Linked DNA regions of Homo sapiens. The protein of the gene in region 1 interacts with the protein of each later gene in a pairwise test. Each region holds a gene or a part of one and is shown in the gene's direction. Other genes may lie near its edges.

Region 1 (6,755 bases):
TGAGGGAAGCAGCAGTACCCCTGTTTTCCATGGTCCTCCTTGCTAATTATGGACCTGTTTAGCGTCCTTCCCCCCTTTTCTGGCTAGCACTTGTTCATCTATTCAGCAGGCACTTACGAAGCACCACGAATGTGACAGGCAGGTGTGGGGCCAGGCTCTGTGAGGAGTGAAGGGGGGTCTGCCCTTGACGGGCTCATGGTCTTGCAGGAAGGTGGACCAGTGACTGTGTAGATCTGAGAAGCGGGAAAGGGACTAGGAAAGGAAAACTGCACCTTCCCAGGACAGAGCAGGCAGCAGGAGCATTTCCCAGGGGCACAGAGTAGCACGGCGGTTTGGAGATGCCGCGGGGAGCTGAATGGTATGGTCAAGTGTGGCACCAGCTGCCAGACCCTGGGACCCTGGGACTCTGGGACCCTCGGAAGCAGACCCAAGAGTTGAGCTGCCCTCCTCTGGGAGATGCATGGGGTCTACTGGATGTGAAGCAGGAGAGTAGGGAGGGACATGGCCGGACGGATGCTTTGGAAAGACCATGGGGGCAGCACATGGAGAAGACAGTTGGAGGACTGAGCCGTGGACAGGGAGACCAGCAAGGGGGTTGTTTGCACATCCAGAAAAGGACAGGGCCTAAACCAGTGCAGGGTGTTGGGGCAGGAGCCAGGGATAAACTGGCCCTGTGACAGCAAACCTGCAGGGTGTGGTTGACCAACATCACTGACTGGACCCAGAGGCCGAGGGCAGAGGGGGCAAGGGTAACTTGAGGTTTCTGCTGCTATCTGATACCTTTTGCCAACACTAGGCATTGCCTTCCTTTTGTCTTAGGTTGGCATCAACAAAGTCTTTGCAGAGGTGCTGCCTTCGCACAAGGTGGCCAAGGTCCAGGAGCTCCAGAATAAAGGGAAGAAAGTCGCCATGGTGGGGGATGGGGTCAATGACTCCCCGGCCTTGGCCCAGGCAGACATGGGTGTGGCCATTGGCACCGGCACGGATGTGGCCATCGAGGCAGCCGACGTCGTCCTTATCAGAGTGAGCGTGGCTGCAGCCAGGCTGTGGGTGCTGGGAGGGCAATGGGCAGACCCCTTCCTCACTGTGTGCTCCTCTCCATCAGAATGATTTGCTGGATGTGGTGGCTAGCATTCACCTTTCCAAGAGGACTGTCCGAAGGATACGCATCAACCTGGTCCTGGCACTGATTTATAACCTGGTTGGGATACCCATTGCAGCAGGTAGGCAGCTCTTACCCACTGTGCTCCAGCTGCGCCCAGAAAGGCTTCTGTCTCCCAGGTTCCTGCTGGGGTTAGTGAGTGGCTCACTCACTGGCTGGCTAGAGGCGTTTTAGAAAGGCTGTTTTTTTTTTTTTTTCATGTCCCCTGCTTTATATGTCTTTAAATGAGAAACTGTGGAGAGGACCTGAAACCTTCATTCACTCTGGTCCTTTCTAAAAAGCTAGTGGAGATGCTTGGCTGTATTTTCTGATCCCTATTTTATTGTGGCCTTATTTTCTGAGCCATTTGTTAAGTCATATAGTCTGAGAAATAATCATTAGTAAGAATTATGGGGCATCTGCTACATGCTAGGCACAATTATTGGTGTTTCAGAACCTTATCCTGAACATTAATCCTGCCCAAGTTTCACTCTGAGTTACACAAATGATCATGGAAAGAAATGGCTCTTTGACCAGGCATGGTGGCTCATGCCTGTAATTCCAGCACTTTGGGAGGCTGAGGCAGGAGGGTCATTTGAGCTCAGGGGTTCAAGACTCACCTGGGCAACATGGTGAGACTCCATCTCTACAAAAAATTTTAAAGTTAGCTGGGCGTGGTAGCGTACACCTTAGTCCCATCTGGGAGTACAGAGGCTGGGGCAGAAGGATTTATTGAGCCCAGGAGTTGGAGGTGGCAGTGACCCATGATCGCACCACTGTACTGTAGCCTGGGCAAGAGTGAAACCCTATCTCAGAAAAAAAGAAAAAGAAAAGAAATAGATTTTTCTGCTTTGTAATTCCCCCTCATTCCCCCTCCTTAAGAACCATCTCTCCCCCGCCCCCTGCTCCCTGCCCCCTGCCCCCAGGAACATGGCAATGAAAAGTTCCAGAGTGCTCCTCCATGGGCTGAGGAGAGATCAAGTTTGTAATCACAGCATTCCTGCCTCAGTCTCCCTTGTGTCTGAGTGGTTAGTGGTGACTTGTGTAACAGGGCCTTGGCTTCCTGAGCCCAGTGAGTCAGGCAGGTTTACTTCTTGTCCCCAGAGCCGGCTCAGGAGCTTAATTCCCCCAGTGTATGTGCCTCTGCCACACAAAGTTGACCATACCTGTCTCCTGACCCTGTCCTGGGACCTGGCTCTCATTCCTCTTCTAAAGATGTCATGAAGCCCTGGAGGCGAGATCATCTGCTAGAGAAGGACTGTGGCCCTCAGCCGTGTTTGTCCTCTGTGGGACTGTGGCTACAGGATGGGCAACTGGCTCCCTCAGCTCCTGCCGCTTTTCTCCTCCCGCTCCTCCCACTCCTTGTGGTTTGTCGCTGCCCTGGAGCTCGCCCTGAAATGGGATGCCACCTGTGGGTGGTTCTGGGAACATCAGGGCGAGTGGAAGAGAGCCAGGCCCACTCAACAGCATCCCACACCCAGCTTTCTAGGAAGCCTCACTTTGGGGGGGGCCTGTGGGCAAGATCCATTGGCAGGGGCTTCTGAGCACGCCAGGTGGAGACCTCACTGGGGGCCGCTGAGGGTGGGGCAGCCCGGTGCCTGAAGCCCTCTCCTGGCTCCTCTCCCCAGACCTAGGTGTGAGTGCGAGTTCTTTCTTCCCCAGGTGTCTTCATGCCCATCGGCATTGTGCTGCAGCCCTGGATGGGCTCAGCGGCCATGGCAGCCTCCTCTGTGTCTGTGGTGCTCTCATCCCTGCAGCTCAAGTGGTGAGTCCCCTCAGGTGGAGCATCTGTGGGAGGCTCCCAGGAGGCCTTGTCATTCTGCATGCTTAGCACAGTGGAACTTGCCTCTCATTTCCCATTCATTCACCTGGGACAAATGCTGCAGTGGCAGCCCACATGGAGCCTGGTGTGCATGCATGTAACTTATCAGCACCATGAGCAGGCAATTCACTGCTGCCCATTCACGTGCTGGGCTGCCCTTACTCTGCTCCTCAAGGGCTGTTTATGTGAACATCAAGCAGACATGGGTCCCTGTGTATGATCTATCACTTTTTTATTTAAAAAAGATGTTCACTTATTTATGAGTGCATTCATTTAACAAAAGTTAGTGGCAGCCTACAATGTGCAAGGCATTTGCTTAGGAAGTTTCTAAATCAGGTGAGCTTTCCTGGAACCATAGGGAGTTTAATGTCCTTTTCCTTGGAAACTCTTGAGGTTTTGATACTGAATGTTATTAAAAGATGGATGAGAGGCCTTCACCAGGCTTAGAAAAAAAAAAAGCCTTGTTTCTAGAATGGCTCAGATGCTGTTGCGTTCCTGCTTTCCAGCTATAAGAAGCCTGACCTGGAGAGGTATGAGGCACAGGCGCATGGCCACATGAAGCCCCTGACGGCATCCCAGGTCAGTGTGCACATAGGCATGGATGACAGGTGGCGGGACTCCCCCAGGGCCACACCATGGGACCAGGTCAGCTATGTCAGCCAGGTGTCGCTGTCCTCCCTGACGTCCGACAAGCCATCTCGGCACAGCGCTGCAGCAGACGATGATGGGGACAAGTGGTCTCTGCTCCTGAATGGCAGGGATGAGGAGCAGTACATCTGATGACTTCAGGCAGGCGGGCCGGGGCAGGGACTTGCCTCCACTCACCACAAGCTGAGCAGGACAGCCAGCAGCAGGATGGGCTGAGCTAGCCTCCAGCTTTGGGGACTTCCGCTCCCTGGATATGTCCAGTCATCCTGCCCTGCAGCACGCGGCCTTGTCTGGGTGCAGCTGGGCTTGGCCTGGAGAGGACGGCCCTGCCTGCCTCTTGGCCTCACGGGACCGTCAGCATGGGCTTTGTCTTGGACTCTAGTCCTTGGCTGGACTGTAGAAGGTGAGAGGCGAGTCACCCTCCTCACAGACCTCTGCTTGGAGTATTTAGGATGACTGCTGTGAAATGGAGAACAGTTTCATCAGGACCAAAAAACCTCACTGGGCCTTTCCAGAGAACTGCAGACCTCACTGTCAGGGTCTTTCTGATGACGCCTGTCTGTGTGCATCATGTTTCTGAGACCACAGTTTACCTCAGGTGTGCCTGTTGCTTTCTTCCTGCATAGTCTGTTCCTTTCTTCGTACATAGTCTGTTCCTTTTCTCTCCTGTGTGCTTGTCAGTGGGGACCCCTCGCAACCCTGCCTGTCACCTGGGAGGGTGGGACCAATGTCCTTGTGGTCTTTGCTGCTGCTCTCAGGCGCTTCTCCAATGCTCTGGAGTGTGCATTTCAGCTTGAACCTGCTTCCTGGCTCACACATCCCCAGCCAGGGAGCTTGCCACACTCTTCTTCAAGTTGAGGAGAGTTCTTTTTTGCTTAAAGCCCCCTTCTCCATGGAGTGTTGGCTTCTCAATAGAGTGTTGTTGCTGACCAGCTGGAGTGAGGGCCTCAGAGCCTGACCTGAGAGTCCGTACTCGGCTTCCTGTGGGGTGTAGGTTCTCGCGATTCAGGACGTCCTTCCATATCCCTGCCCAGCCTGTGGTGCTTGAAACGTTTGCCCCATGGGAAACGTATGTGTGCAGGAGCCTCCCTGCACGGCCCAAGGGGCTTCGTTTTCAGTCTTCTGACTGTCACCTCGTGGGGTTCAGTAGAGAATTCATGTGACTAGCGCCTGGCCTTGTGTGGCTTGGAGGAAATGGTACTGCCCAAATAGGAGGAAAACACAGCCTCCCTGAGCCTGCATTCTGCACGCTGCCCAGGGGCTTCAGAAAAGGAGTGGCCACAGCACCCCGAAGGGAGCATCTGTTTACCTGGCAGTGGCTCTCAGAGCAGCAGAACGGGTTCAGTTTTAGACTCTGAAGTTGGTTGTGATTGACAGAACCCTTTGGGAGCAAACTAGTAGAGTTGGATTAAATTCTGGGTGAAACCCTTTTCTCCCACACAAAATAGTTTTAGTGATTTTTTTCATTGTCCATTACTTGCCAGGGGCAGTTTTAGCAGCACTTTTGATAGATTACGTCTAATCCTCCCAACCAACCAGCAGGGTAGCTATTACTGTCCACATTTTACAGGCAAGGAAACAGGCTCCAAGAGGCTGAGGACTTTGCCCAGGATGACATAGCCAATGGACAAGCAGTGTCTGTCAGCTGTGAAGGCTTCACTCTTATTGTCCTTCTACCTTGAATAGAAGTTTTCCTGATAAGAATAAACGAGGAAAAGGTCCTTGCCTCCTGGAAGAACAAATCTACCAGGTGATCTATTCATTGTTTCAACTCAGAATGCACTTGATTCAGGAGGTCATCTGACCTTCACCTTGGATGGTTAGTTTCACTTTTTACATATAGTTTTTGCAGGGTTTTATTTTATAAAATCCAAGCGCGCTGTTGATTGTGTTTTCCTTGTTTTCAGCCCCCCCACTCCAGCCCGCAGCACATTTCCGCTGTCCGTCAGTAATTGTGTCCTCTCTTTATGCTTGCTTGGGGAATGTTGTTTTCTGACTAGGCTGATCATTATCTAAAGAATCTAATTCTGTTGATTTTTAAAACTTTTAGGACCATAAACGTTGTGTTCATATATGGACATGGAAATATTTATATAATTTTATAGAAAATAACCTTTTAGATGGTCAAAGTGTAAGGAGTTTTTTTGTCAGATAATCATTTCTACTTCAAAAACATTTCATGCAATATTAGAATAAAGTTCCTGTCATTCCTCTAAAAATCTGCCTGTGAGTGAGATGCGTGGTCAGAGGCCAGTGCCGTCTTGTCTTCACGAGGGCTTCTGTGAGGCACTGGCTTGGCTTCATGTCTTTTTAGGGGGCAGAGGAGGATAGGATTTTAACAGTAGGGGGAATGAGGGTGGGCAGAGCCCCCTTGATCTGCCATCCCCAGCACTGGTGTGAGTCCCTTTCTCTAATGCAGGCCTGCCTCAGCGGCGTGTGGGGAGAACGCTGAAAGGCAGCTCCTGTCAAAGTCCCTGCCCCGCTGGATCGGACACAGGCTTAAATTACCGCATCGTTTGCACCCCTCTGTTCTAGGGTGAGTGTCTGCAAAAGGCTGTTCTCAAACACATCTCAATCAGGAGGGATATGTTTTGGGTTCCTTGGCCTTGAGGGAGTGAGTCAGGAGGAGGAGCAGAAAAATCTTGACTAGTAGGCTCTGCTGGGAAAGCTCTGTGGGCATCTTGGGGTGGCCGGGGGGTGTAAGTGAGCCACACCTGAAGGGAGTTGACAGTGTAATCTTCACCCACACCAGGACACTTCAAAGAGTGGAAGGAGGCACTATGAATAGTTATGCCAGGACAACTGGCCTAAACCGGGACTATCCAGGCAAACTGGGACATATACTCACCTTCCTTCAAAGGGAAATAGACATTGTGACATCTCCATTGACACAGACTACGTACTTTAGAACCTTGCCTGATCATAGGTTCCAGAGACATGCTGGTGGCATAGTCCGTTATCATATTTCAAGGTTCTCCCCCATATCCACGTCTTGGTACCTACACATCTCTGTAGAATCATTGAGGTGATTATCTCATGGCTCATTGTGACTGCATAGCTAGATGGCCAGCCCCGCCCTCCAGCATACCCTGGAGGACTTCATGCCATGCGTGCTTGACTGTTTTTCCGGATGCCTGGGTACAG
Region 2 (8,125 bases), on another chromosome or scaffold:
CTGATCTGAGTCCCTTTGGGCCAGCAGGAGTCAGCCACACAGAAATAAGAGGAAGGGCACCCTGGGCACAGGGAGCAGCAGGTCCAAAGTGTGAGTGGCAGCAATGACGAAATGGCTCAGAGTCCACACAGTTGGAGCAAAGGAGAAATTGTTGCAGAACTTTCCCCTTAGTTCCGGTAAAACTGGGCTCTTGTCACACGACCAGGAAAGATTAGGCTTGCGGACACACAGAAGGGTGAGGAAAATGGAATTTATTGGATGAAAAGGAAAAAGGAAAAATAATTCTCAGCAAAGCAAGAGAGAGTCCTGATAGCAGGTTTCCCGGCTCACAGATTGAGTTCCAGGTCAGCACACAGGAACAGGAGAGGCCAGGCTCCTCCTCGCTGCAAACGGTGCAAACTTCCCAAAGTTCCATTCCGCCTTCCCAGTGCACAGGTGGGCATTATTCAGAAAGAATCAGTCAGGAAAAGGTGGGCCTCATCCAGGACCAGCAGTCCAATTTTTGTCTTTGTTTCTGGTATTTTTTGAGACAGAATTTTGCCCTTGTTGCCCAGGCTGGAGTGCAATGGCACGATCTTGGCTCACTGCAACCTTCGCCTCCTGGGTTCAAGTGATTCTCCTGCCTCAGCCTCCCAAGTAGCTGGGATTACAGGCGCCTGTCACCATGCCCAGCTAATTTTTTTTGTATTTTTAGTAGAGATAGGGTTTCACCATGTTGGCCAGGCTGGTCTTGAACTGCTGACCTCAGGTGATCCACCTGCCTTGGCCTCCCAAAGTACTAGGACAGCAGTCCAGTTTTTCAGCCTTCAGGTTGTTTTAGACTTGGAGGCAGGGTTTCACCAGGGACCCTTGGCTGCCTCCTGTCTCTAAAATGTTGGTGGGGAGGCTGGGATACGATGAACAAGGTAGGGAGGACCCATCACACAGGGCCACATCCCCACAGGGAAATCTGGATTTTGTCCTGGGGAAACATGGACTAGTTTTTTGTTTGTTTGTTTGTTTGTTTGTTTTTTGAGTTGGAGTCTTGCTCTGTCACCCAGGCTGGAGTGCAGTGGCACAATCTCCATTCACTGCAACCTCTGCCTCCCGGGTTCAAGAGAGTCTCCTGTTTCAGCCTCCCAAAGAGCTGGGACTACAGGCACACGCCACCACGCCCAGCTAATTTTTAAATTTTTAGTAGAGATGGGGTTTCACCATATTGGCCAGGCTGGTCTCAAACTCCTGACCTCATGATCTGCTCGCCTCAGCCTCCCAAAGTGCTGGGATTACAGGCATGAGCCACCACGCCCAGCCCATGGACTAGTTTTAAGAGGGAACAAGATAGGTTCTGTATTTTTAAAGATTGCCCCAGCAGCAGTGTGGAGTAGGCAGTGAGGCGAGGGTGGAGGTGCTACAAGAGGGAGTGAAGAACTAATGAGGGCTAGAGCAGCAGGAGCAGTCAGGTGTTCAGACCAGGGAGGCACTCAGGAGGCAAACTTGGTAGGGTTTGGCCACTATGCATAAGTGAAAGCAGAGGCCAGCACAGATGCCTGCCAGGTTTCCGCCCTGGCCGAAAAGGTACATGAAGGTGCATGCAGGCTCAATGAGCAGGTATGGAGGAAAGAGGGTGGCTTCAGGGGAGATTCAGTTTTGGCTGCCTAGAGGCTGAGAGGCCTAAGGAATCCCCAGGTGGGTCTTTTCAGTAGGCAATGAGATAGCCTTCCCTGAAGCTTAGGAGAGAGGTCCAGATAAGGAAAAACGTGATGCTCATCAGTAAAAAGCTGACAGCTGGAGTCATGTGTGGAGCTACGACCTCTCAAGGAGTGGGTGTGTACACAATGAGAAGATCAAGCCCCAAGATAGACCATATGTGTAGGCAAAATTCTTAACAAAGACACTGAGACAATATCCAATAGAAAGAGCAAAAAGATCATGCTGCAATGGGCAGTGGGAAGAGAACTTCCAGAGGCCTGCAGTGATCTACAAGGTCAAACCCTGCACAGTGGGTAAGGAAAAACCCTGAAGAATGTTCGTTTGTGGCCACATTTTTTGCAGCCCTCATCAGCCTGTGAGTACAAATGAAGTCACATTGGCCGGGCACGGTGGCTCACGCCTATAATCCCAGCACTTTGGGAGGCTGAGGTGGGCAGATCACGAGGTCAGGAGATCGAGACCATCCTGGCTAACACGGTGAAACCCCGTCTCTACTAAAAATACAAAAAATTAGCCGGGTATGGTGGCGGGTGCCTGTAGTCTCAGCTACTCAGGAGGCTGAGGCAGGAGAATGGTGTGAACCCGGGAGGCGGAGCTTGCAGTGAGCAGAGATCGTGCCACTGCACTCCAGCCTGGGCAACAGAGTGAGACTCCGTCTCAAAAAAAAAAAAAAAAAAAAAAAGAGTAACCACACATATTTCACTAGCTTGTTGCCAACCATCTGTAAAGCAGGACTGATTCTCCCCTAAAAAATGCCCTCACTTCCCACCCTCCAAGGTGTATTTTCTGAGAGTGCCTGGGAGTGTCTCACACAAGCCAAAGGAGAGTCCACACGTGTTAGTCCACACGCACACCCTCTTTCCATCCACAGCACTTGACGCATCTGCAGTCCCCATGGCGGCTTTCCATTGAGATGCCCTAAGGTCCATGCTGGGTTTCAGCTCCTGCTGTACAATGCAGCAGAGGCTTCTATGCTTGTCATTTTTCACTGAGTTGAAGCCACAGCATTTTCTGAGAAATGGAGAGGACACCCGTTCTTTGCCATCTCTTTGTCTCCCATTTTCCACATGGTGCCTCACAAAAAAATTGCCTTTAGCTTGTGCCTTATGGCCATCTGTCCTAAGGCTTCAGACACCAGGCAGTCCCCGGGACTGAGTGAGAGGCAGACAATAGTCTCCCTGGATCCCAGCCTCTTGGGGCAGGTGACTAATTTGCAAAAGGTCAGGATACCTAGCTAAATGGTCATTTGGTGACATAGAGGCCATGATTAGTGTCTGCCAACAATTCAGCAGAATGGTTGACAAGGTCAGATAACAACAAAATGAGAGAATGGAGGTGAGAAAGGTACAGACAGTAAATTTCATGAAAGGGCAGAGGCAGGAAAGCAGGAAATGGGGAGTGGTGGTGGTGGTGGTGGCTTTTAACTTGAACACAGTGGCAGGCTGAGGCACCAGGAAGGGAGGAGCCAACAACAGACCGGAGAAGAGAAAGGCTCTGAGTGAGTAGCAGGTGCAAGTCGTGTGGATAAACCTCAGGCTGAGGGAACTTAAGGCAACAGCCTGAGGGCCCTGAAACAGACCCTGGACCTCCTGGCAGGGGCCTCTGGAAGGAGCCTGGCCACAGGGTTCTGAGGTAAAAGAATGAAAAAAGAGAGGAGGCTCAGACTCTGTGGCAGAGCCTACTTTGGAGGGAAGTGGGAAGTGGGAAGTCCGGAGCCCTGACCACGTGAGGGGCCTCCCAGCCCTGCCACATCCTTTTCTCTGGACAGAGCTGTCACTTAGCTCCCCCTCCGTGACTCAGAATCTGGCTTTCTCATTTTGCCATTTTAATTCTAGTAACGATGAGAGTCACAGTAAAAAGCTGCTTCTGGGAGTGGATTTTCTTCCCTTCCCTTGATCGCAGTATGCTTGGGATTCCTCTTACGTGGCAGTCGTGGTGTCCAGCTCTGGCCTTGGCCCCGCCTCTTTGAAGATACTCTGGTTTCACCATAAAACTTCCTGGGGAAAGGATGATTCACGTTTAAAGGACATAGTTTTTCCTTGATTTGTTTATTTAAGCTACCATACACTAGAGGGGGCCGGAACTAGACCCAGGAGTAGAGGACTTTGCTTTGCGGGATAAGGAGAATGGGCACCCTGGGGAAGAGCGAAAGATTTCCTACTGTTACAACCCGTGTCTTATAACACTTGAAGTGAATGTGGTGTCTGAGTTACAACACTACTTCCCCTCACAAACAGTTAAAAGCAGAGGGTCACAAACATAGGCTCAACCAGAAAAAAAGATTCTCATTTCATCTGTAGTTTTGTATCAAGGATTGTGTTGGAATTTGCCTCCATATTAAACTGCTGTTCAAGGGTTACCAACTCAAATGGTTATGGGGTGAAGCCGGTGTCTCAGGCATGGGCCTGTCGTTGGGACCTGTGGCAAACCAAAGCCACTACTTGCCCTATACAAAGGGGGCAACAGCTGTCAGCCCCAGCAGCTTCCACTAAAAGGTGCAAGCTCTGTATTGCCCGACCTGACTTTTCAGAGAGAAGTTTTAAGTCCGAATTGTTTTGTGAGACCTCCAGATTTTTAAATACTGAGAATGAATTCCATTAAAAAGATCACAACAACAAACACCCACCATACAGTCCAAGCAAAATGCTGTGAGAGCAACCTTCATGAGGAGTGCAAAGTCACAGTTTCAATTTCACTTCTTCTAAAGAGATTTCCAAGTGTTCTGTTTCTTAAGTGATTCTGTTTGCATTTTAAAATACAACTGTATCTCCTAGAGGGAAAACAAGAATTTGCTCTAAGAAGTCACTGCCTCCTCAGCCCCTTTGTGAGTAAGCACTTTATGCTTCCCCAGAGGTGACTAAACTCTGATCATTGCCAATGGGCAGGCACTCCCCAAATGTCCAAGGACAACAAAGATACCCAGAGTGTCTTTCATAGCTACCAATGATTAAATAGCAAGTATTGCATTCCTGGGCATTGCTAACTAGTGAAGTATACCAGATGGAAATGTCTTCGAAGCTGTCCCTTTAAAACTCGAGCAAGCTACCAGGCAAACTCCGCCTCCAGGGAGGTTCCTTATTAAATAGGAGCCAACTGGCTGGGTCGGGGCTCAATACCCCAAGCAATACCTGCAACTGAGGATTCTTCCCGGGGAGACCGCAGCCCATCGGCATGGCTCAAGAGTTTGTGAACTGCAAAATCCAGCCTGGGAAGGTGGTTGTGTTCATCAAGCCCACCTGCCCGTACTGCAGGAGGGCCCAAGAGATCCTCAGTCAATTGCCCATCAAACAAGGGCTTCTGGAATTTGTCGATATCACAGCCACCAACCACACTAACGAGATTCAAGATTATTTGCAACAGCTCACGGGAGCAAGAACGGTGAGTTTCATTTTAAACGGCTAGGGAAAGGCTCCCGGATTGCCTTTTCTTGTCAGAGCTGTGCCTTTCTTTAGGATAAGGCTGCGGCTCCGTACTTCAAGGCGTCCAGAGGGCTGTGCGGGGCGGGGGGTGTGGGGGAGGGCGCCTTAGAGAGGATCTCGGTCACTTGAATGAGCGGCGGCACTGCAGCCAAAGGTCTTCACGGGGCAGAAGAGGGAGTACAGCTGATGTCTGCTGTGCGGCAGGGTAAGTGGGACCAGCAGCTTGCCGGTGAGTCCCTGGGGAATTATCTAGAGTCTTTGTTTTAAGCACTGCCAGGAAATGACAGTTTTCAGTTGGCAGGGCTGGAGGTGGAAGCTGGGGTGGAGGGCCGGGTGTGATGTGTTTGTTATTTAACATGAGATTCATGTTCTTCATTCTTTTCTCTAGGCTTTCTTTTTCTAATTTGCTCATTCTTCCTTATCTAATTCCTCCCACTGGAAAAATCTAATGTACCGTTATCTGCCCCTTGTTCTAAATTAATTATGGATGTTTCCAGGCCCCACATTGTAGGGAATCATAGCCTGGAGTTCTGGCCTGGCTCTTATAATGGCTGGCTGTGTGATCCTGGGCAAGTCACCACCCCAGTAGTCCTCAAAGATCCCAGCTGCAAGACCAGATTAGGTGACCTCAGAGTCCCATTTGCTACGAATAGACTGTGGGACCCTCTAAAAATTGCTCTCCTCCATCCGAAAGACTTCCCTCTCTTCAGCATCCTTGGCTTTGCGTCCTGGGCTTCAGGAGGGATGCCAGCCACATCACCTGTATCAGTTCTGCTGTGAGGTGGGATGAGAAATGTCCCACCAGCTCAGCTAAGTTCTCTTTTACGATGCACGAATTCTACAGCACAGTGTTAGGCCAAGCACATATCCTATTTCAGTTTTAGTTTGACTTACAAGGTTGTCTCTGGGTTCTGAGTATAAAGCATTGGAGGTTGTTTCTCTCCCCTTCTCTCTAATAAGAAGTCAGCATTTTGGTGCAGAAAGGGGGCTTAGTGTGTTATCCTACTGCTGTGTGCTGAGGTCCTGGAGTATACACAATGACGAGAGAAGCTCTTGCTGCCTAGTGGGACCACCAGCTGCATAGGATGCCCAGGCCCTGAGAGGTGTAAAGGGCAGTGCAAACACTACTACGGGCCCCACTGTGGCTGCCACCCTGAGGACCTTTTAGCCATTGGTTCCCAAACTTTGCTGCACATTAGGATCACCTAGAGAGCTTTTAAAACAATCCTTATGCCCAAATTATGCCCCTCAATAACTAAATCACAATGTCAGAGGTGGGAGCCAAGCATTAGTTTTGTTTGTTCGTTTGTTTTGAGACAGTTTCATTCTTGTCACCCAGGCTGGAGTGCAATGGTGCAATCTTGGCTCACTGCAACCTCTGCCTCCTGGGTTCTCCTCAACCTCCCAAGTAGCTGGGATTACAGGCGCCCACCACCATGCCCAGCTAATTTTTGTATTTTTAGTAGAGACGGGGTTTCACCATGTTGGCCAGGCTGGTGTCGAACTCCTGACCTCAGGCGATCCACCTACCTCGGCCTCCCAAAGTGCTGGGATTAAACGGGTGAGCCACCACACCTGGGATTTTTATTTGGAAAAATCCCTTGGGGATTCCAATGTGCAACACAATTGGGATTATTGTTCTCAGCCCAACAGCATCTATTTTCCAGGAGGTAAAGCAAACCTCTTCATGTGTTCATTTAACAATTGCTTTTTTTTTTTTTTTGAGATGGAATTTCGCTCTTGTCGCCCAGGCTGGAGTGCAGTGGTGTGATTTTGGCTTACTGCAACCTCCACCGCCCAGGTTCAAGCAATCAAGTAGCTGGAATTACGGGCACCTGCCACCACACCTAGCTAATTTTTGTATTTTTATTAGAGATGGGGTTTCACCATGCTGGCCAACCTGGTCTCGAACTCCTGACCTCAGGTGATCCACCCACCTCAGCCTCCCAAAGTGCAGGTGTGAGCTACCACACCTGGTCAACAATTGCTTTTTCATTTCTTTGTAGAACAACAATATTTCTTGTAGTAATCTTTTAAGGTTTTTTTTTTTTTTTTTTTTTTTAAGAGACAGAGTCTTGCTCTGTCACCCAGGCTAGAGTGCAGTGGTGCAATGATAGCTGACTGCAGCCTCGAACTCCTGGGCTTAAGTGACCCTCCCACCTCAGCCTCCCGTGGCTGGGACTACAGGCATGAGCCATCATACCCAGCTAATTTTTTAAGTTTTTGTACAGATGGGGGTCTTGTTATGTTACCCAGGCTGGTCTTGAACTCCTGGCCTCAAGCTATCCTCCCACCTCAGCTTCCCAGAGTGCTGGGATTACAGATGTGATCCACCTCAACAAGCCTGTTTTTCATTTTTAGAAAAATGTTTTTCACAGATTCTTGAATTCTGAGTGCATTCCTCCTAGGGGAAGAACAAGCCTTTTAAAGCTGCATGTTTGATCCCCAACAGGGAAGTGTTTGTATTCAAAGGGTCTGAAAGCTCCCGAGGGTTTTTTTTTTTTTTTTTTTTTTTTTGAGACGGAGTCTCCCTCTGTGCCCAGGCTGGAGTGCAATGGCGCAATCTCAGCTCACTGCAAGCTCCACCTCCCGGGTTCACGCTATTCTCCTGTCTCAGCCTCTCGAGTAGCTGGGACTACAGGCGTCTGCCACCATGCCTGGCTAATTTTTTGTATGTTTAGTAGAGACGGGTTTTCACTGTGTTAGCCAGGATGGTCTCAATCTCCTGACCTCGTGATCCACCCGCCTCAGCCTCCCAAAGTGCTGGGATTACAGGCGTGAGCCACGGCGCCCGGCCTGATCCTGCAGTCTTAATTATTCTATAAAGTAGCTGTATCTAGTAGGTAATCAGCAGGACATGATTATGGAAAGTTAGTGGCTTCAATCAAGCCATGTACTTGGTAAAACCTGTTTTTGTTTTGCTATAGTCACAGCTCCTAAATTAGTGCCTTCATTTATTTCTCCTCTAATGCACTTTTCTTTACATAGATCTGAGTTTCTGAACTATATCATTT
Region 3 (7,630 bases), on another chromosome or scaffold:
ATAAACCCCCAGTGGCTGAATTTGGTCAAACTGAAAAACAAACTGTCCCCTGGCCCAACCAGGGCCTCCCTGTTGCCTAACTTCAAGCCATCCCCTCCCACATGGCAGTCTATGGGCATGAGGAAATCCCATAGGCTCTATCTTCAAAATACAGCCAGAATCCGTGCTCTATGGCACTATCTTCTTTTGCTTGGATCACCATTGGAATTTGCTAACTGAGCCCTGATTCTATCCTTGTCTCTCTACAGTCCATTTCCAAAACGATGTCAGGAATGACCCTTGTAAAATGTGGGTTAGATCACATCACTGCTCTGCTTGAAATCCTGCAATGGTTCCACATTCCCTTCAGAGAAAAATTCAACATCCTTTAAATGCCCTTTGAGATCCTACATGAGTGCACCCCCAGCCCCCATTAACTCTGGGACATCATCCCCCAAACCCCTCCCCCGTGCTCACTCCCTAACAATGACACAGGTCTTGCTGCTCCTCACATACGCCTTAGAGACCTTGTTTAGCTCCTTCTGGAAGGCTCTTTCCCCAGATATCCACTGGGCTCTCGCTCTACCTCCTTCAAATCTTTGCTCAAACCTTACCTTTTCAGGAGGGTTACCCTGACCACACAATCCAGAATTGCAATCCTCCCCTCTCCCCCTATTTCTTGTTCTGCCTTCTAAAAGAAGCAACTGCTTAAAGGTGAAAAAGAAAAAAAAAATTTTTTTAGTTGCCAGCTTCCATATGGCAGCAAGTTCCAGATGGTTTAAAATAGTGTTCATCCACTCGACAAATACTAACCGAGGGCTTGCTCTGTGCCAGGCACTGAGTTAGGCAGGAATTCAGTCTTTAATTCCACTTTGCTCAATTCAGTGAGCAATACACTGGTGCTCTCCTAGAAGCAAGCCTCGGGGTTGGGTGGTGAATTGTGCAAGAGGGAGGGTGAGAAACAGTCTCTGTTTGGCCAAATTTTAGTCAGGCTTCTGAATCTTCTGTAGGCCCATCTGTGCACTTCTCATAAAAAGTGGTTTTAGTGGGCCAGGCGTGGTGGCTCATGCCTATAATCCCAGCACTTTGCGGGGCTGAGGAGGGCAGATCATGAGGTCAGGAGATCCAGACCATCTTGGCTAACACGGTGAAAACCCATCTCTACTAAAAATACAAAAAAATTAGCCGGCCGTGGTGGCGGGCACCTGTAGTCCCAGCTACTTGGGAGGCTGAGGCAGGAGAATGGCATGAACCCAGGAGGCGGAGCTTGCAGTGAGCTGAGATTGTGCCACTGCACTCCAGCCTGGGCGATAGAGTGAGACTCCGTCTCAAAAAAAAAAAAAAAAAGGAAAGAAAAATTCAAAGTTCAGTTCAATTCAAAAGCAAAAACAATTCAAAAGATTTCCCAGAATAAAGGCAGGCCAGCAGTCTTTTGCCATGTTTACACTTGGGAAATTAGCTTTAGCCCTGCCACCACCACATTTCCTGGGCAGTAAGGGCCCCCACAGGGGCTAGCATGGATATTGATGAAACAGGGACTTCTTTTTTCTTCCTCCTCTATTCACTTACTATGACTTTTAGATTAGCCTGTAAATAGATTCAACACAGGAAACCCTATAATTAATATAGTTTTCAAGTAGGAAAGCAAAAGTGGGGAAGGCAGCCAGGGCAGGTGGCCAGCATTGGTGAGAGCAGTTCCCCAGATTCCTAAGCTGTAGAAAACCCTAAGTCTTTGAGGTCAGAGCCCAGATTCGGTCCCCTTCACAAGACCTCATTTGACCAAAGTCTGACTAACTTCCAGTTTTTTCCATTATTATTGTGGATTTACTCTGAAGGACTCTTTATAAAAATGAAAACCACTTTGGGTTTTTCATACTTGGGATATTTAGGGAGCATTTCTTCCATGTGCTTAGTACTTCATACCTTACAAAATGCTTTCACAGCCTGGATGATTTTTTATTTTCACCAAGGCAGGGATTATTCTTCTCATTCTATGTGTCTTGAAACAAGACTCTGAGGTGTAAATGTCTTTTTCAAGATCACATAGCTAGAAAGTGCCAAAAGTATCCACTCAAATTTGATAATATGCCAGGTGGGCAAAACAGTGGGAAATGGATAGCTCATACACTTATAGTGAGAGTGTAAATTGGCCTAGAATTTCACAAGGGCTTATTGCCAGTATTTATTAAATGTGGATATCCTTTGATCTGCCAGTTCAACTTTAGGGTCTCTGTATTAGCCTGAGTTCCCCCTAGAAAGCAGAGCTCAAAATGAGATTCTGCAGGCAGGAAGCCAGGATTGAGAAGTGAATGAGGGTGAGTCCAGGGCTGGGTAGAGTGAAAAAGCAACACAAGGCTACATTATCAAGCTGGTCACCATTGTGCATAACTAGGACTCGATCCTGCTAGAACCCTGAGCCTTTGAGGATGGAAAGTATCTCATTTATCGCTAGTTCCCTCCCCAGTACCTGGCATGTAGCAGGGACAAGATAATTGGCCACTTAATTATTTAAAATCAGTGCTCTAAAAAGTGTCTGTTTTATGTGGATTCAGCTCAAGTCTCCAGCCTTTCTGTACCTGCAGGCTCTGGGACTTCATTTTAACAGCATAGTCCAGAAAAGGGAATTTAAACTCAGTAGAGACTAGTTTATAAACCAGAAAACCAACGAATTCATTAACCTAAAGAAATAATTGCAAATGAGTTGGCTAGTAATATATTCTCTCCTAGGAGCAGATGTCACCTATGAAACTAAATTAGTGCCAGGCTATTGCTTGGTGAACAAGTAATGACTTTTAGGCTCAATTGGTAAAGCGTGACATAAATTGTGAGATTAGCACTGTATAAGCTGAAAAGGTCTATATAAATGTAAGGTATTATTAACATCACCATATTAGAAAATATGCTGGAGGGAGTATACATAGGGGTTATACCTGCAAGCACTAGAGTCAGAGAGAAAAGGGTTCTACCTCCATCTATGAAACCTTATAGAGGAGTCACTGCACTTCCCTGTGCCTCAGTTTCCTGCTCTGTAAAATAGAAATAATGATAGCCACATGCTTTTTGGAGCTGTTGTAAGAATTAAATTAGACAATGTATGTAAAGTTTTGACACAGTGTGCTGCACTTAATAAGTGCTCAATAAATGTTTGCTAATAGTATTCAGTTCCCTTTCTTCTCAATCACCAACTCTAACGTCAGACAGGTAATAATACAACACTACTACAATTATAAAAATGTAGACCTGGTGGCAGGCAACAGAGGCTCCAGTTTCTGCTAGGCAGTTCTAGGTGGTCATTTTACATACTGGGGAGTCCCAGTTAGAGAAAGGGAGTCAGGCTAGTGGGACCAAGGGATAGCAAGAAGAGCAGATGCACTCTAAGTCTGCCTTTCTTCATGGTGCAGGACACGTAGCCCTCCTGTGCAAATAACTCACAATCTTCCTGCACTCAGCTATCACGAGACACATGCAAGTTAGCTCCCTGTAACCTTGGAGTTCTCGGTACTGCACAGCACTCTGCAGCCCAAGAACCATCGGATAAAATCTCCAGCAAGCCTTTGTTTCCTTGAAGTCAGCTCCTCTCTGGCTGGTCTGCCCATTGCAACCTTTCAACGTATTTTCATACCTTCTCTAATAAATCTGCATTTCTTTACCTAAAACTGTTGATAAATTATTTTCCCACCCATGTAATACCAGTCTCACGTAGTCGCTGCTCACCCAAGAGGCAGACCTGAGCCTTAGTTTACACATTAGAAAAACGTAGACGCCTACCAACATTGTTCATTCATTGATTTCATTCCCTCCTTTTCATACTTATTGAAGGTCCACAATACAGACTTAGACCTAACGCTAACTATGTACTCAAAAACCTGCGTTTCAAATGAGATAATGTATGTGAAAGTTCCCAAAGGCCATTGGCAAGACTCAGAAGACAGTGCTGGTGTGACTCCTGTCTTGCAGTCCCCACGGAGCCCTGTCCCTTTGAGACCTTCCATTTGTCTCCTGGATGCTCGCCTGTTAAGTGGGGCAGAGGAGGCCGTCGTAAATAAGACAAAAGATCAGGCTTCCATTCTGGAAGAAAAGAATAAAAGGAGCTCACTGAGTCCAGACCTAATGGCAGTAAGGGCAGTGGACGCTCACAAAAGCGCTGGGGGACGGGCCCAGAGTTGGGGAGAAAACAGGGATCCCAGCTGCGCACGCGCGCTCTGGTTTTCGACGGGCGCAGAGCCGGACGAGGTGGGAAACCTAACGTCAAAGTCTACGTAGGAAGTCGTAGGGAAGGCAGCGAGGAAGACGCTGGCTCTCGGGTCACGTGATGCGCCGGGAGCGTCATCGCCTCCTCCCTCCCCAAGATGGCGTCCTTGCTGCAGTCGGACCGGGTTCTCTATCTAGTCCAGGGAGAAAAGAAGGTTCGGGCCCCGCTCTCGCAACTCTACTTCTGCCGCTATTGTAGCGAACTGCGGTCGCTGGAATGTGTGTCTCACGAGGTAACAGAGTCGCCCTATAGCGAGTATGTGGGGTGGGGGGGGCGCGGCGTTCATGCTAGTCACTGCCACCGGAAGGCTGGAGCTATTTTCCTTCCTTACTGATTGGTTATGTCTTCCGTCACTCGGGTTTGCCTGCGATTTAATTTGCTTCTAATCTGTCACTTGGAAAGGAGGAGCAGCCTCGGGTGGGACTGAGCGGATCTTCTGGTTCTAGAGCGGCCTCTGATTGGACAAACTTGACTTAGGGACCGTGTCTGTCTGCGATGGGGCTTGGTAATTGGGTGGACTACGGAGAAAGGTCTGGGGGTGCTTAGTTCAGGCCACTTAAGGGGCGAAAAACTGCCTTTCCAGGATTTATTGCGAGGATGGAGGGAGGCGCAGGCGTTCTCATTCATAGTTCTCCCATCCTGAAAGTTCTGTTCCTCTTTTGTCCAGAAACTGGGCCCTCGTCAGACTGCCTTGCCCTGTTCCTGACTCAGGCCAAGGCCTGCAGCCGGGAAGAGGTTGGGGCGGCGTGAGTTATGTGAAAAGCGCTCAGAATACAGTATGTCATGTAAGAAGCTGAAAGTGTATTTATGGAGCTAGAGGACAATGCTGTCCTTCCCTGGCACAAGTGGGCGTCCGAAGTTGGATTTTTCAAAAAGAAGACCCCGGCCAGTAAAAAGTCACCAAATAACAAAACCCCAAAACTTCTGCAGCGCTTGGCACATCTTGTTTATTCAGTAAGCTTTAGGGATTAAAAGGCGAGTAAGACATAAAATGCGCTGTTTAATAAGCCATAGTCTTAGTGAAGAAAAAGCTGATAGTAGTAATAGTTGCTGCTTATTCGATACTTGCTATATGTCATGTGCTTTATGTAATCTTCAAACCAATTTAAGTGGATACTTTTTTTAAAAAATTTTTTTTACAGGTAAAGAAACAGATACAGAGTGTTCGCTGTAAGTCACACAGCCAGTAATTTGGGGGTGGGAAGGAGGACCTGGATTTGAATCTAAACAGCCTAACTCAGAGTGTTTTTTACTGAAGATCCCGGGACTGTTAAAATAAATGCATATGAAAACACATACTATAAGCCATTTTATGTGTTATTAATAACTTATTTTATTGAAGATACTTTTCATAATAGGAATAGTCAAGAAAAGCAATTAAATAATACAAGAAAAATCGTATATATTAAAAATATGGCATCGATTTTTCTTCTCATCTCCATTAGCACTTTCCTTATGTGTATCTCCTTGATGATTCCCTATTCCAGCTCCACCTCCAGAATTTATTGGATCATATTCTCCTGTGGTGAATAGAGTGCTCAGTCTCCATGATCTGTCTCTAAGACTCTCTTCAATTAGGACATCCAGTCTGTGACAGCATCTTTTACAGCCTGATGTGTACCTGTGATATGGAGGCCATTAGAGTTTAGGGAAAGATGAAGCTCTGAGGGCTGGGGCAGGCAGTGAAGTTCTAATGGAGAATCTGGGTCTGGAGCTGCACATGAACGGACAAGCAGAATTTGGAAAGGGGGCAAAAAGGAATGACTTGTATTTTGCCTTTTTTGATGAGTCAGTGCAGAGGTTAGTTAGCAATATTGTATTTTATGTTCCTGGAGATTATTTGAGCAACAACTTTATTAATCTTTTCAAATTGACCTGTTTATAGCAGATGATGAAAAAAGCCAGTTTCTATCATAGTATTTATGTTCCAGTGATTGTCTTTTCATTTGCAGGTGACTAGAGTTCTATAATTGTCAAATAGGACCTACATTAAAGAAAATAATTATTCAGACTTTTAAAAAATAAAATGAACTTAAATTTTAGACTCCAGTTTTTTAAGTACAATAAGACTGTCCCATTAATTTGTTTAAAAATCTCTAATTGGTTGGCCATAGCTGACTATGTAAATAAATATTTATGCTTGCCTTCAGTCAACCTGTATTACTTCAATAATGAGAAATCTTTAAAAAAATGTCCTTCAAAACCTAAAAGTATGGTCAAGTTTTATAGTCATATAAAGCTAGCCTAGACAGGAGGATATTTTATCACAATGTTACAAATTGGATTATTTTATTAATCTCTTTATTAATCATAGAATTCTATGGAGTTCAACTGGAAATTGTAGATTGTTAAATAAACAACTTTTAACACATAAAACCCTGATGATGGAATAGGAAAGATCAGAAAAATAGAAGGATTTTTTAAATCCGGAAGAAGAAGAAAAAAAAAAAACAGGTGACTGAAGAAGAATAAACCCTAAGCAGAAAACAGTCTACTTTCTGCTACAGTATAACATATTTTAAAATTCACTATTTGACAAGACATATACACAAGTTAAACTGAGTTCTCCTCTGGTTTTTTTTTTCTTTCTTGTTTCCTCCTAGGTGGACTCCCATTATTGTCCCAGTTGTTTAGAAAATATGCCATCGGCTGAAGCCAAACTAAAAAAGAATAGGTAAGACCTGGACTGATTTTTTTTTTCTTCCTATTTTCCTTGACTGTTCTCTAAAATAGCTAGTTAAAAAGACACATGGGCCAGGCATGGTGGCTCACGCCTGTAATCCCAGCACTTTGGGAGGCGGAGGCAGGGATCACGAGGTCAAGAGGTTGATACCATCCTGGCTAACATGGCGAAACCCCATCTCTACTAAAAATACAAAAAATTAGCTAGGTGTGGTGGCACGCGCCTGTAGTCCCAGCTACTTGGGAGGCTGAGGCAGATGAATTGCTTGAACCTGGGAGGCAGACATTGCAGTGAGCCAAGATTGTGCCACTGCACTCCAGCCTGGGCAACAGAGCAAGTCTTTGTCTCAAAAAAAAAAAAAAAAAAAAGACACATGAAATTAACTTTTTTAACCAGCTCTTTTTCATTTTTAAGCATCACCATTGCCAAAGATGAAATCCCCTTTGATTTTTGAAATAGATTTTCTACTTTAGAACAGTTTTGTACTTCAGAATTATGGTGAAGATAGTATGGAGAGTTCCCATTTACCTCACATCCAGTCTCCCCTATTGTTAACTTTTTACATTAGTGTGGTATATTTGTTACAATTAATGAACCAATACACTACATTTTATTCAGATTTCCTTAGTTTTTCTGTGGTCTCCTTTTTTTCCAGGATTCTTTTCAGGATATCACATTATATTTATAGTTATGTCTCTAGACTCCTCTTGGGTGTG

The links. The genes of interacting proteins can lie anywhere in the genome.
Region 2: the proteins of ATP7B (region 1) and GLRX interact in a two-hybrid assay, tested with the Homo sapiens proteins (one study listed by BioGRID).
Region 3: the proteins of ATP7B (region 1) and DCTN4 interact in a two-hybrid assay, tested with the Homo sapiens proteins (one study listed by BioGRID).

What each region holds. Positions count from the first base shown.
Region 1 is NC_000013.11:51,931,744-51,938,498, reverse strand, and holds the end of ATP7B (copper-transporting ATPase 2), read left to right. Parts: intron 1-819; coding exon 820-1,023; intron 1,024-1,105; coding exon 1,106-1,223; intron 1,224-2,803; coding exon 2,804-2,906; intron 2,907-3,469; coding exon 3,470-3,743; 3' UTR 3,744-4,181; coding exon of another isoform or gene 4,182-4,209; 3' UTR 4,210-5,830; downstream 5,831-6,755. Other genes in the region: TMEM272 (transmembrane protein 272), read left to right, coding at 4,182-4,209. UniProt on the Homo sapiens protein: Copper ion transmembrane transporter involved in the export of copper out of the cells. It is involved in copper homeostasis in the liver, where it ensures the efflux of copper from hepatocytes into the bile in response to copper overload.
Region 2 is NC_000005.10:95,819,401-95,827,525, reverse strand, and holds the start of GLRX (glutaredoxin-1), read left to right. Parts: upstream 1-4,799; 5' UTR 4,800-4,863; coding exon 4,864-5,070; intron 5,071-8,125. UniProt on the Homo sapiens protein: Has a glutathione-disulfide oxidoreductase activity in the presence of NADPH and glutathione reductase. Reduces low molecular weight disulfides and proteins.
Region 3 is NC_000005.10:150,755,692-150,763,321, reverse strand, and holds the start of DCTN4 (dynactin subunit 4), read left to right. Parts: upstream 1-4,304; 5' UTR 4,305-4,328; coding exon 4,329-4,463; intron 4,464-4,623; exon of another isoform or gene 4,624-4,761; intron 4,762-4,814; exon of another isoform or gene 4,815-5,206; intron 5,207-5,373; exon of another isoform or gene 5,374-5,401; intron 5,402-6,834; coding exon 6,835-6,905; intron 6,906-7,630. UniProt on the Homo sapiens protein: Part of the dynactin complex that activates the molecular motor dynein for ultra-processive transport along microtubules.